Homo sapiens: one gene and its partners. The protein of the gene in region 1 interacts with the protein of each later gene in a pairwise test. Each region holds a gene or a part of one and is shown in the gene's direction. Other genes may lie near its edges.

Region 1 (3,500 bases):
TTGCTCAACATCATTAATCATAGGGAAATGCAAATTAAAATTACAATGAGACACTACTATATACCCACAAGAATGACTAAAATCAAACAGACTGATAATACCAAGGTTTGACAAGTTGTGAGGAGATACTGGAACCTCCATGGATTGCTAGTGGGAATTGTAAAATGGAAGGGCAACCATGGAGAAGATTTTAATTTCTTTAAAAGTTAAATATACAGTTACCATAAAACCTAGCAATTTGACTCTTGGATTTTCAAAGAAATGAAACACAGTGCCACATAAACACTGCTACATTATAATGTATAGCAACATTATTTATAATAACCAACAACTGGAAACATGCAAATATCTATCAACCAGTGAATGAGTAAGCAAAATATAGTATATCCACACAATGACTACTAGTCATAATAAAAAGAAACAAACGATTGGTCAATGTAACTATATGGATTAACTTCAAAAGCATAATACTAAGTGATAGAAGAAAACCACATTTTATGATTCCATTTGTATGAAATTCTAGAAAAGGCAAAATTGTAAACACAGAAAGCCGATCAGTGGTTGTCTGCAACTGACTGTGGTAGCAGAGATTGAGTGTAAATGGTTACAAGGGAAATTTCGGGGGTGACGTAAGTGTTCTAAAACTAGATGGTTGATAACTGGATACATTTACTACAACTCATTGTTTGAACTATACACTTAAATGTGTGAATGTTGTGGTTTGTAAAGTTACCTCAACACAGCTATTATAAACAAAATATATATAATAATGTGTTTTATTATTTTCCTACCTAGGTAATTATCAGCAGGAAATTTTCTGAGAAGCTGGTAGAATTTCCATTGCTAGCCTCTTGGTACCAGAGGATTCAGGAAGTGCCAGGAGTAAAAACAGCAGCTTCTAAGTGTGGGATCCAATTTCTCCATTTACCAAAGTTGTTGACAACCTCAACTGAACAGCATCCAAACTTATGTGAAGTCCCAGGTGTAGAAGAGCAAAGCGATCCTTTATTTATAGGAGGACCAAGACCAACCATGGCCAAGTTAATGGTACTTAATTATTAACATTTTCTTTGAAAAATTCTATGTGATAATATTGCTGAGCATTCTACTCCAACTTGTAATCATTTGTTGACATTATTTTTGTTATAAATTTTATTTGTAGCTTTCTTCACTCTTTACCAGTTAATATTTCTGCTACTCTTTTCATTTATGTGAAGTATACTAAATTGAAAACTTTTAGTATTATGTATTTTTGGAGCCAAGTAAGTCACAATATATACTTTTAAAAAGCCCTTTTCTCAAAACTTTTTTTTTTTTTTTTGTATATTCAGGATATTGACCAAGGTAGCATCATACCTGGTCAAGTATACTATTTTAACATAATCTTTTTCTGTTGTAAAGTTTTGGTCTCAGCCTTTTTTAGTTTGGATAATGATTGCAAGTTAAATATAAAGATAAGGCTGGGTGTAGTAGCTTACACCTGTGATCCCAGCACTTTGAGAGACTGAGGCAGGTGGATCACTTGAGGTCAGGAGTTCGAGACCAGTCTGGGCAACATGGCAAAACCCCATCTCTACTAAAATTACAAAAATTAGCTGGGTGTGGTGGCACGTGCCTGTGGTCCCAGCTATTCAGGAGGCTAAGGCACCAGAATAGCTTGAACTTCGGAGGGCGGAGGTTTCAGTGGGCCGAGATTGTACCGCTGTACTCCAGCTTGGGCAACAAAGTGAGACTCTGTCTCGGAAAAAAAAAAAAAAGAAATATAAAGATTAATATCTCAATTTACATTCCAAGGTTTTGTTTAAATTTGTAATTTTGGAATTCTTTGAATTTTATTTTTACTTTAATCTTTGATTTTAATGTTTTTGTTACATAAAAGCCTGGGTGACAGAGTGAAACCCTGTTTCAAAAAAAAAAAAGAATGCATATGCTTTATTTTTTTTCTCCTTGGGGCATAGTTTGTTTTCAGTAGTACTAATTGCAAAGTTTTCAACAATGGGCTTTCCTTTCCCTAACATTTGAAATGATCTGCAAAAATATTTTGCTTTTAATAGGTGATGTGAGGATTTATTTGAATAGAGAATTCATGAAGTAAGTTATCCATCGAGTTACACTGGAAAAATATTCATTATATTTCCCTATTTGGGTTAGGAAGTATTTGAGTTCGGTAGCTAACAGAGTTTACTGATTTAGAAATGGACAGGAAGACTTTGGTAAGGATACCAATCCCTTAACTCTTCAGCTAAGCTCTGTGGCCTATTGATTAAGCAATGAAACATGATTATATAGTTGATTTTAGAAGTTATTGAGGCATGTCTAGATTTTGATGTGTCTTGATTATATTACTACACTGCCAAGGGACCTCTGGTTCACCTCTCGAGTGAATATGCAACTACTTTTGGAAATGATGAAAATATCTTAAAATAGATAGTGGCAATGATTGAACAATTGTGAATATTATAAAAACCACTGAATTGGATACTTTAAAAGGATAAATTATATGGTATTAATATATATATTTTATCTCAATATAGTTGTGTTTTTTAAAAAGACCCTAAAGTAAGAATGAGTTTAGTGAAATGAGAAATAGCAAGAAGGTCAGTGTGGCTAGACTGAAGAAGATAGAAGAGAGGTAGATGATGTCAGAGAGATGTGTTTGTCTTTCTGGAGGCAAATCAGTGCTCTGGGCTTGTAGATCAATAGCCATATCTCTAGCCCTAATGAAAGATTATTTGTACTATTTCCTTCGGGACACAAATTCAGCTAGTTTTTATAATGGAAAGTAATCTCATAAACTGATACAAAGCATTCGATGCTAGAGTCTCACAGATTTTTATTTGAATAGGTTATTCCTAAAGATAAAAATAACAGAGCCATGGAGATATCTAGATATAGATATATAGATATAGATATAGATATAGATATAGATATAGACTGTGTACCTGGAATGTGATTGGAAGGGGTCTGTGAATCCATGTGTATGCCATGCCACTGTACGTAGATCAAATAAACAAATGTACAGCTTCTAAGATGGAGAAGGATCCTGAAAATGTTTTAATATATTGAAAAGTGGTCCTAATTCTTGAAAATATTGGGAACCATTTGGTTACACCAGAGGAATTTTTCTCTAGTGACATTAAAGGCACTTATAAAAGACTAGTATGAGTGGTATTTTGGGGTATGTGTTAAAGTGGTAGCTTTTAGGCTGTGGCGATTTTCATATATGTAAAGGGAGACTTTGATGGACATATGCAGAGTTCTTTTTTTATTATTTCTATGTGGATTGTTTTTGATAACATTTTCATCCTCAGCTGAACTTTCTCTTTGATATCCAATATATTTCTAGGTAGCTTATTGCTTCTATGGATTTTCTAGTAATAATTTTAAAATAGCATTACTTTTTATTATCACAATATTAAAAAATAGGAAAGTAATTGTGATGTCAAAATACTCAACACATGGTATTTTTATTTAATTAAAATATGTATTTTGGGGAATAG
Region 2 (3,500 bases), on another chromosome or scaffold:
AAGGATTGTTCCAGCAATCGAGCTGCTGAGGAAGGAGGAGCCAGGGGCTTTTGTCATAAGGGACAGCTCTTCATACCGAGGCTCCTTCGGCCTGGCCCTGAAGGTGCAGGAGGTTCCCGCGTCTGCTCAGAGTCGACCAGGTATGCGTCTGTCTCTGTGCTCACTCAAGGCCTCACTGAGGCAGCGGGGTGTGGTAGGTTCCAGTCCTGGCTCTGGCACTAGCTTTCAGGGTGACATGGCGCCAGTCTTATAACAGCTCCTAGGAGAAGCGTCCACCCCAGTGTTCTCCCCGATGCCCTCCAGCCCCAAGGCACCCTGAAAAACGCCTTTCACAGCAAGCCTGCGTGCTTCTGCCTTCCCGAGCCCCACCCCCACTTCCCTGCTTTTTTCTGATGGTGGGAGAGAAGGAGGAGGGTCCTAGCCCCCTCTAGGCTGCTCTTCTTGGAGTCAAACTGGATTCATTTCCAGGGAACCTAATGTGTGATTACACACGCAGCTAGCTTATCTCACAGGTGATAGCTTACCAGGTTTGTGTACTAGCTCAGCGCACATGTGTGTGATAGCTTATATGCTTTCCTGTGGTCTCCCATGCTTATTTGATAGCAAACATCTATGGAGCATCACCACACACCAGGCACTGTGTGAGGCAGCAGGGATACAGTGGAATCAGACACAGACACCACCTCACTAGGGAGACAGATGAAAACAGATGATTACAGTACAAGGTACCTGGGTCATAGGCCTCACTCAAACCCCAGGATTGCACCTTCTTATTTAACGGATGAGATAACGGAGGCTCCCAGAGTTACTTAATGACTCCAGAGCAATTAAGTGATAAAGGGAGGATGAAACACCCAGCCTTGTGTTCTTGACAGTATGCCTCACTGTCACAATAAGAAAGTGACCTCTGGGGAGGGTGTTACTTATAAAGGACGCCTTGCAAGAGGCAATGAGCCCAGACTGAGGAGGACACTGTGGACTGGTGGAAAGGAGTCAGAAGGTCATTGTTCACCTCCCCACCCCCGGGGCCAGCGTGGCTCCAGCAGAGATGACCTGGTGGGCAGGGGGAGACAGAAACCAGACCAAAGAGTCGACATTTATCTAAATAATTAAGAAGTTTCCTTGCCAGGCACAGTGGCTCACGCCAGTAATCCCAGCACTTTGGGAGGCCGAGGCAGGAGGATCACTTGAGCCCAGGAATCTGAGACCAGCTTGAGCAATATGGCAAAACCCTGTCGCTACAAAAATTACCCAGGTGTGGTGGAGCACACCTGTAGTCCCAGGTACTTGGGAGCCTGAGGCAGCAGAATCACTTGAACCCAGGAGGTCTTTGAGGCTGCAGTGAGCCATGATCACACCACTGCACTCCTTCCTAGACCAAAGAATGAGACCCTGTCTAAAAAAAATAAAATAAAATAATCCCTAGGCCGAAGCAGGAGAACTGCTTGAGCTCAGGAGTTCGAGACCAGCCTGAGCAAAATAGTGAGACCTTGTCTCTACAAAAGAATTAGCCCGACATGGTGGGGCACGCCTGTAGTCCCAGCTACTCAGGAAGCTGAGGTGGGAGGATTCCTTAAGCCCAGGAGGTTGAGGCTGCAGTAAGCCGAGATCATGCCGCTGCACTCCAGTCTAAGAGACAGAGCAAGACTCTGTCTAAAAAAAAAAAAAAATCCCTGATAACTCTTGACCAGCAGAAAGGTTTCCCCACCCCACCCCCAAAAAAAGAAGAAGAGAAAGGTTTCCTGAAGAGGGTGTGGCTGGAGCCATTGAGCAGATGTGTTGGCACCTCCTCTGTGGGAGGGAGAGGCAGGGGGATGGACAAGGTGGAATTTTTTTTTTTTCCGGTGAGACAGAGTCTCACTGTGTCACCCAGGCTGGAGTGCAGTAGCACAATCTCGGCTCACTGCAACCTCTGCCTCCCAGGTTCAAGCAATTCTCCTGCCTCAGCCTCCCGGGTAGCTGGGACTACAGGCATGTGAACCACGCCCGGCTTTGTGTGTGTGACTGTGTGTGTGTGTGTGTGTGTGTGTGTGTGTGTCTTTAGTAGAGATAGGGTTTTACCATGTGGGTCAGGCTGATCTCGAACTCCTGACCTCAAGTGATCTGCCCACCTCGGCCTCCCAAAGTGCTGGGATTACAGGCGTGAGCCACCGCGCCCGGCCACAAGGTGGAATTCTATCCGAATGCACTCTTTCTTCTCTGTCCAGGTGAGGACAGCAATGACCTCATCCGACACTTCCTCATCGAGTCGTCTGCCAAAGGAGTGCATCTCAAAGGAGCAGATGAGGAGCCCTACTTTGGTGAGACTCCCCAGCCTCCAGGCTCCCCCGGGATGGGGGGCCAGCGAAGTCTCCGTTGTGAGCTGAGGGGTGGGTTGGGGAAGCTCTACTCATGCAGGGCTGCTTGCTTCCTTTCAGGGAGCCTCTCTGCCTTCGTGTGCCAGCATTCCATCATGGCCCTGGCCCTGCCCTGCAAACTCACCATCCCACAGAGAGGTGGGTCTGGGCCCCAAAGAGGCAATGCCAAGGTGGGGGACCTGTTTGTTCTCATTAGAAATGGGGTTCACTCCTACCTTGTTGGTGGATTATTTTAGTGTCACGGTTAAAACTGTGTGCACTGGAGTCGCTCAACATCTCCACCTCCTAGCTGTGAAAATTTGAGAATGTTGACCTCTCTGAGCCTCAGTTTCCTCATCATACCTACTTATAGGATTGCTGTGCAGACCGAAAGAGATAGCCCGGGCAAGGCTCTTAGCGCAATGCCTGGCATAGAATGGATGTTGGATAAATAGCAGCCTGCTTTGAGAGGGTGAAAGAGCCTAAATCAAATAGTTTGGAGAGGTTTTCTCTTTCCAGGTCCAGCATTTGTTGAGCACTCACTCACCCATTCATGCTTCACTACAAGCTTGTGAAGTAGACTTTGCTGTTATCATCCCCATTTCACAGATAAGAAAATAAGGGCTGGGCGTGGTGACTCACGCCTGTAATCCCAGCACTTCGGGAGGCCAAGGCGGGCAGATCACTTGAGGTCAGGAGTTCGAAACCAGCCTGGCCAACATGGTGAAACCCCGTCTCTACTAAAAATACAAAAATTTAGCTGGGCGTGGTGGTGGGCGCCTGTAATCCCAGCTACTCAGGAGGCTGAGGCAGGAGAATCACTTGAGCCGGGGAGGCAGAGGTTGCAGTGAGCTAAGATCGCACCACTGCACTCTAGCCTGGGTGACAGAGCGACAGAGCAAGACTTCATCTAAGAAAGAAAGAAAGAGAGAAAGAGAGAAAGAAGGAAGGAAAGGAAGGAAAAGAAAACGAGGGTTCTAGATGTTACGTAATTTGCCCAAAGGCCCACAGAGTCAGACCTTGAACCCAGATCAGCATGCCCTATCCAGAGCATACAGCCAGGTAGGGGGGCAGCTCAGATGAAATAGATCATCTCAGGGGTGTGCAGGAGAAGCTCGAGAAGGGCTGTTTCTGGAAGGGCATCAAGGCAAGGGAGCCCCAGAG
Region 3 (3,500 bases), about 95 Mb from region 1:
TAGAGAACAAAACAGAGAGAATTAAGGTCACTGAGTGAGCTGATATGGTGTTGACCAAGAAGGTCCTCACAGATATAGGAAGGAGCAAAGGGTTTCAGCTCCTTTCTGGAGGTGGGGGACAGACTGCACCAGTCACAAAATCACACTGAAATGTGAATTTAACCTTTCCAGATCATAGAGGAGGCATGCAGCCCTGTTCTCCTCAGAGATGCCAGCCTCCAGCCAGCTGCAGCCCTCACGAAAATATACTGCCCTATAAATACACAAGCTGGAGACCACCTTTCCCCAAAAGGTCTGATAGAAAGGTAAGCAGACACTTCTCTGCCAAGTCCTTCTAGATGTACTTGGCATCTAAATAGAGCTTTCCTGAACAATGCCCAAAAGGAGATTATTTATGTTTGACTTTAACTTTTTCCCTTCTGGCTATATGTTACTGGGTTTTAATATTTTTAAAGTATTTTAATATTTTTAAATATGTTGCTATATAACATATTACATTGGTCTCTCACCAGATTCTTTGACTGGCATGTTTCCAGATTCTAAAGTGTTTTTTTAAAAATTAATCCAAAAAATACAGATATTTAGACACGTGTTTTATATTTACCAGCTGTCCAATAATCTTGTGGGGGGTTAACTAGGATATACAGGTTGCAATTTTTTTCCAGCAAAAGATCCATGTATTACACACTCATTTCAGTTGAACAGTCCAGCGACCATTAGTTGAGCAGTTATTATGTGCCAGACAATGTGCTAGAGGTTATGATCCCCACCCTAATGGAGATGTAAAGAGTGGGGAGATGCAAATGGATACTAACTGTGTTCTTGTGTGTCTGTCATCTATTTTGTGGTCTCTTTCTAAAATATGCTCATTCACTACAATTGGTTATTTTTGGACCATTTTTTACTTACATTACCCTATGGTGGGGGGGATAAAGTTTCACTGTATCTTGTATGCTTTCTCTCCATCACATTGGATGTTACTTACTAAAGTCTTTCACTGTAAAGCCCCAGAGGATGTGCCTCTTCCAGGTCTCCATCCCATATCCTGCTATTACTCACTGTCCTGCTACAGAGTTCGTGAAGATTTCTAAGCAGAAGCAAATGTATAGAATATCTCTGGTGAATTCCTACAGTATCCTAAAGCTCTTTTGTTATCCTTATATTCATATTAATTTCTACCTAATTCTAAAAGGGTCTCATAATCTTAAATTAGACTTTGGAAAATATTTTCACATCCTGGCCAGGCACGGTGGCTCATGCCTGTAATCTCAGCACTTTGGGAGGCCAAGGTGGGTAGGTCACCTGAGGTCAGGAGTTCGAGACCAGCTTGACCAACATGGAGAAACTCTATCTCTACCAAAAATAAAAAAATTAGCCAGGCGTGGTGGCACATGCCTGTAATCCCAGCTACTTGGGAGGCTGAGGCAGAAGAATCGCTTGAACCTGGGAGATGGAGGTTGCAGTGAGCCAAGATCTCACTACTGCACTCCAGCCTGGGCAACAGAGCTAGACTTCATCACAAAAAAAAAAAAAAATGCATATCCTTCTTTTATTGTCCCTTGTCATGCACTCGGCTTCCTTTTGCTCTTTCATCTTCTTCGTAAACATGGGGATCACTTGGTTCTAACTAGAGGTCCACACAAGATTACGCTCCCTCCCAGATCCCAGATTCCTCATAGGCATGAGACAGGCTTGGACCACATCAGGATTTCCCTGATTTCAGCTATTTGAGTATACCTTTATGATTTGTGGCATATCTATGTCCTGTCAATAATAACATTTAGTTAATAATATTCTTTAAGGTGACCTGTTTTCACTTTATATCACTACTCTGGTTAATTTTTTTAACTAGTATTATATATTGTAGAAAGTGACTTTAGAAGTATTCCATTCCTTAGTCTATGCCCAAAAGAATTGAAAGCAGAGACTCAGATATTTGTACACCCATGTTCATAACATTATTTACAATAGACAAAAGACGGAAATAACCTATATGTCCATTGACAGATGAATGGATAAACAGAATGGTATACACACACACACAATGAAACAGTTTACAGCTCTAAAAAGGAATAAAATTCTAACGTGATACAATATACAAGAACCTTGAAAACATTATGCTGAGTGAAATAAGTCAGACATGGAGGACAAATATATGATTCCAGGAATACAAGGTACCTAGAATAGGCAAATTCATAGAGACGGAAGGTAGGATGGTGGTAACTGGGCCCTGAGGAAGGAGGTGGAGGTAATGGAGAGTTATTCTTTAATGGATACAGAGTTTCAGTTTGGAGTCATTAGAAACTTGGAGATGGATAGCGGAAATGGCTGTAAAGCAATGTGAATGTACTTAATGCCACTGAATTATACACCTAAAAATGGTTAAAATGGTAAATCTTATTATATTATTGCCGAAAAGAGTCAAATTCTGGAAAATATTTGAAGAGATTTATTCTGAGCCAAATATGAGTGACCATGGCCCGTGACACAGCTCTCCAGAGATCCTGAGAACATGTGCCCAAGGGGGTCAGGGTGCAGCTTGGTTTTATACTTTTTAGGGAGATAGGAGACTTCAATCAAATATGCTTTTTTTTTTTTTAATTTTTTTTGAGACAGAGTTTCCGCTCTTTTTGCCCAGGCTGGAGTGCCATGGGGCAATCTCAGTTCACTGCAACCCCCGCCCCACCTCCCGGCTTCAAGTGATTCTCCTGCCTCAGCCTCCCAAGTATCTGGGATTACAGGCATGTTGCCACCACTCACGGCTAATTTTGTATTTTCAGTACAGACGGGGTTTCACCACGTTGGCCAGGCTGATCTTGAACTCCTGACCTCAGGTGATCCACCTGCCTTGGCCTCCCAAAGTGTTGGGATTACATTTAACAAATACATTGTTTCAGTCCAGAAAGGTGGGACAGCTTGAAGTGGGGCCTTCCAGGTTATAGGTAAATTTTAGCAATAGGTTGAGTTTATCTAAAGACCTGGGATCAATAGAAAGGGAATATCACTGATAGATAGAGGGCTTATTATCGGTGAAGATAAGGCCTTGTGGAGACCAAAGTTCTCATTGTACAGATGAAGCCTTCAGGTAGCAGGCTTCAGAGAGAATAGATTGTAAATGCTTCTTCTCAGACTTAAGGTCTGGATAGATGTTAGTGCCGAAGAGCTATGAGGCGTGTCTGACCCCTACTTCCCATCATGACCCAAACTAGTCTTTCAGGTTAAATGTTAACAGTGCCCTGGCAGAGGAGGAAGTCCATTCAGATGGTTGGGGGACCTTAGAATTTTATTTTTGATTTACAATATTTTTCCCTAATTTTTTTAAAAAGTCATTGCAACGCAAACAAAACACGCTATTAAATTGTAGCAGGATCCCATCACCTGCTAATGGCTGTCAGCATAAGGACTGCTCTTCTTCTGTTAAAGAAGAGATTAGAAATGGCAGAGAGATATTAACGACATATTTGGCCAAAATGAAACATTCCTTTTGAATTATTCAGGGG

What was found.
Region 2: the proteins of GSTCD (region 1) and TNS4 interact in a two-hybrid assay, tested with the Homo sapiens proteins (one large-scale study listed by BioGRID and IntAct).
Region 3: the proteins of GSTCD (region 1) and CLNK interact in a two-hybrid assay, tested with the Homo sapiens proteins (one large-scale study listed by BioGRID and IntAct).

What each region holds. Positions count from the first base shown.
Region 1 is NC_000004.12:105,725,784-105,729,283, forward strand, and holds part of GSTCD (glutathione S-transferase C-terminal domain-containing protein), read left to right. Parts: intron 1-795; coding exon 796-1,047; intron 1,048-3,500.
Region 2 is NC_000017.11:40,481,124-40,484,623, reverse strand, and holds part of TNS4 (tensin-4 precursor), read left to right. Parts: intron 1-14; coding exon 15-140; intron 141-2,207; coding exon 2,208-2,300; intron 2,301-2,417; coding exon 2,418-2,495; coding exon of another isoform or gene 2,496-2,527; intron 2,528-3,500. UniProt on the Homo sapiens protein: Promotes EGF-induced cell migration by displacing tensin TNS3 from the cytoplasmic tail of integrin ITGB1 which results in dissociation of TNS3 from focal adhesions, disassembly of actin stress fibers and initiation of cell migration.
Region 3 is NC_000004.12:10,510,269-10,513,768, reverse strand, and holds part of CLNK (cytokine-dependent hematopoietic cell linker), read left to right. Parts: intron 1-171; coding exon 172-305; intron 306-3,500. UniProt on the Homo sapiens protein: An adapter protein which plays a role in the regulation of immunoreceptor signaling, including PLC-gamma-mediated B-cell antigen receptor (BCR) signaling and FC-epsilon R1-mediated mast cell degranulation.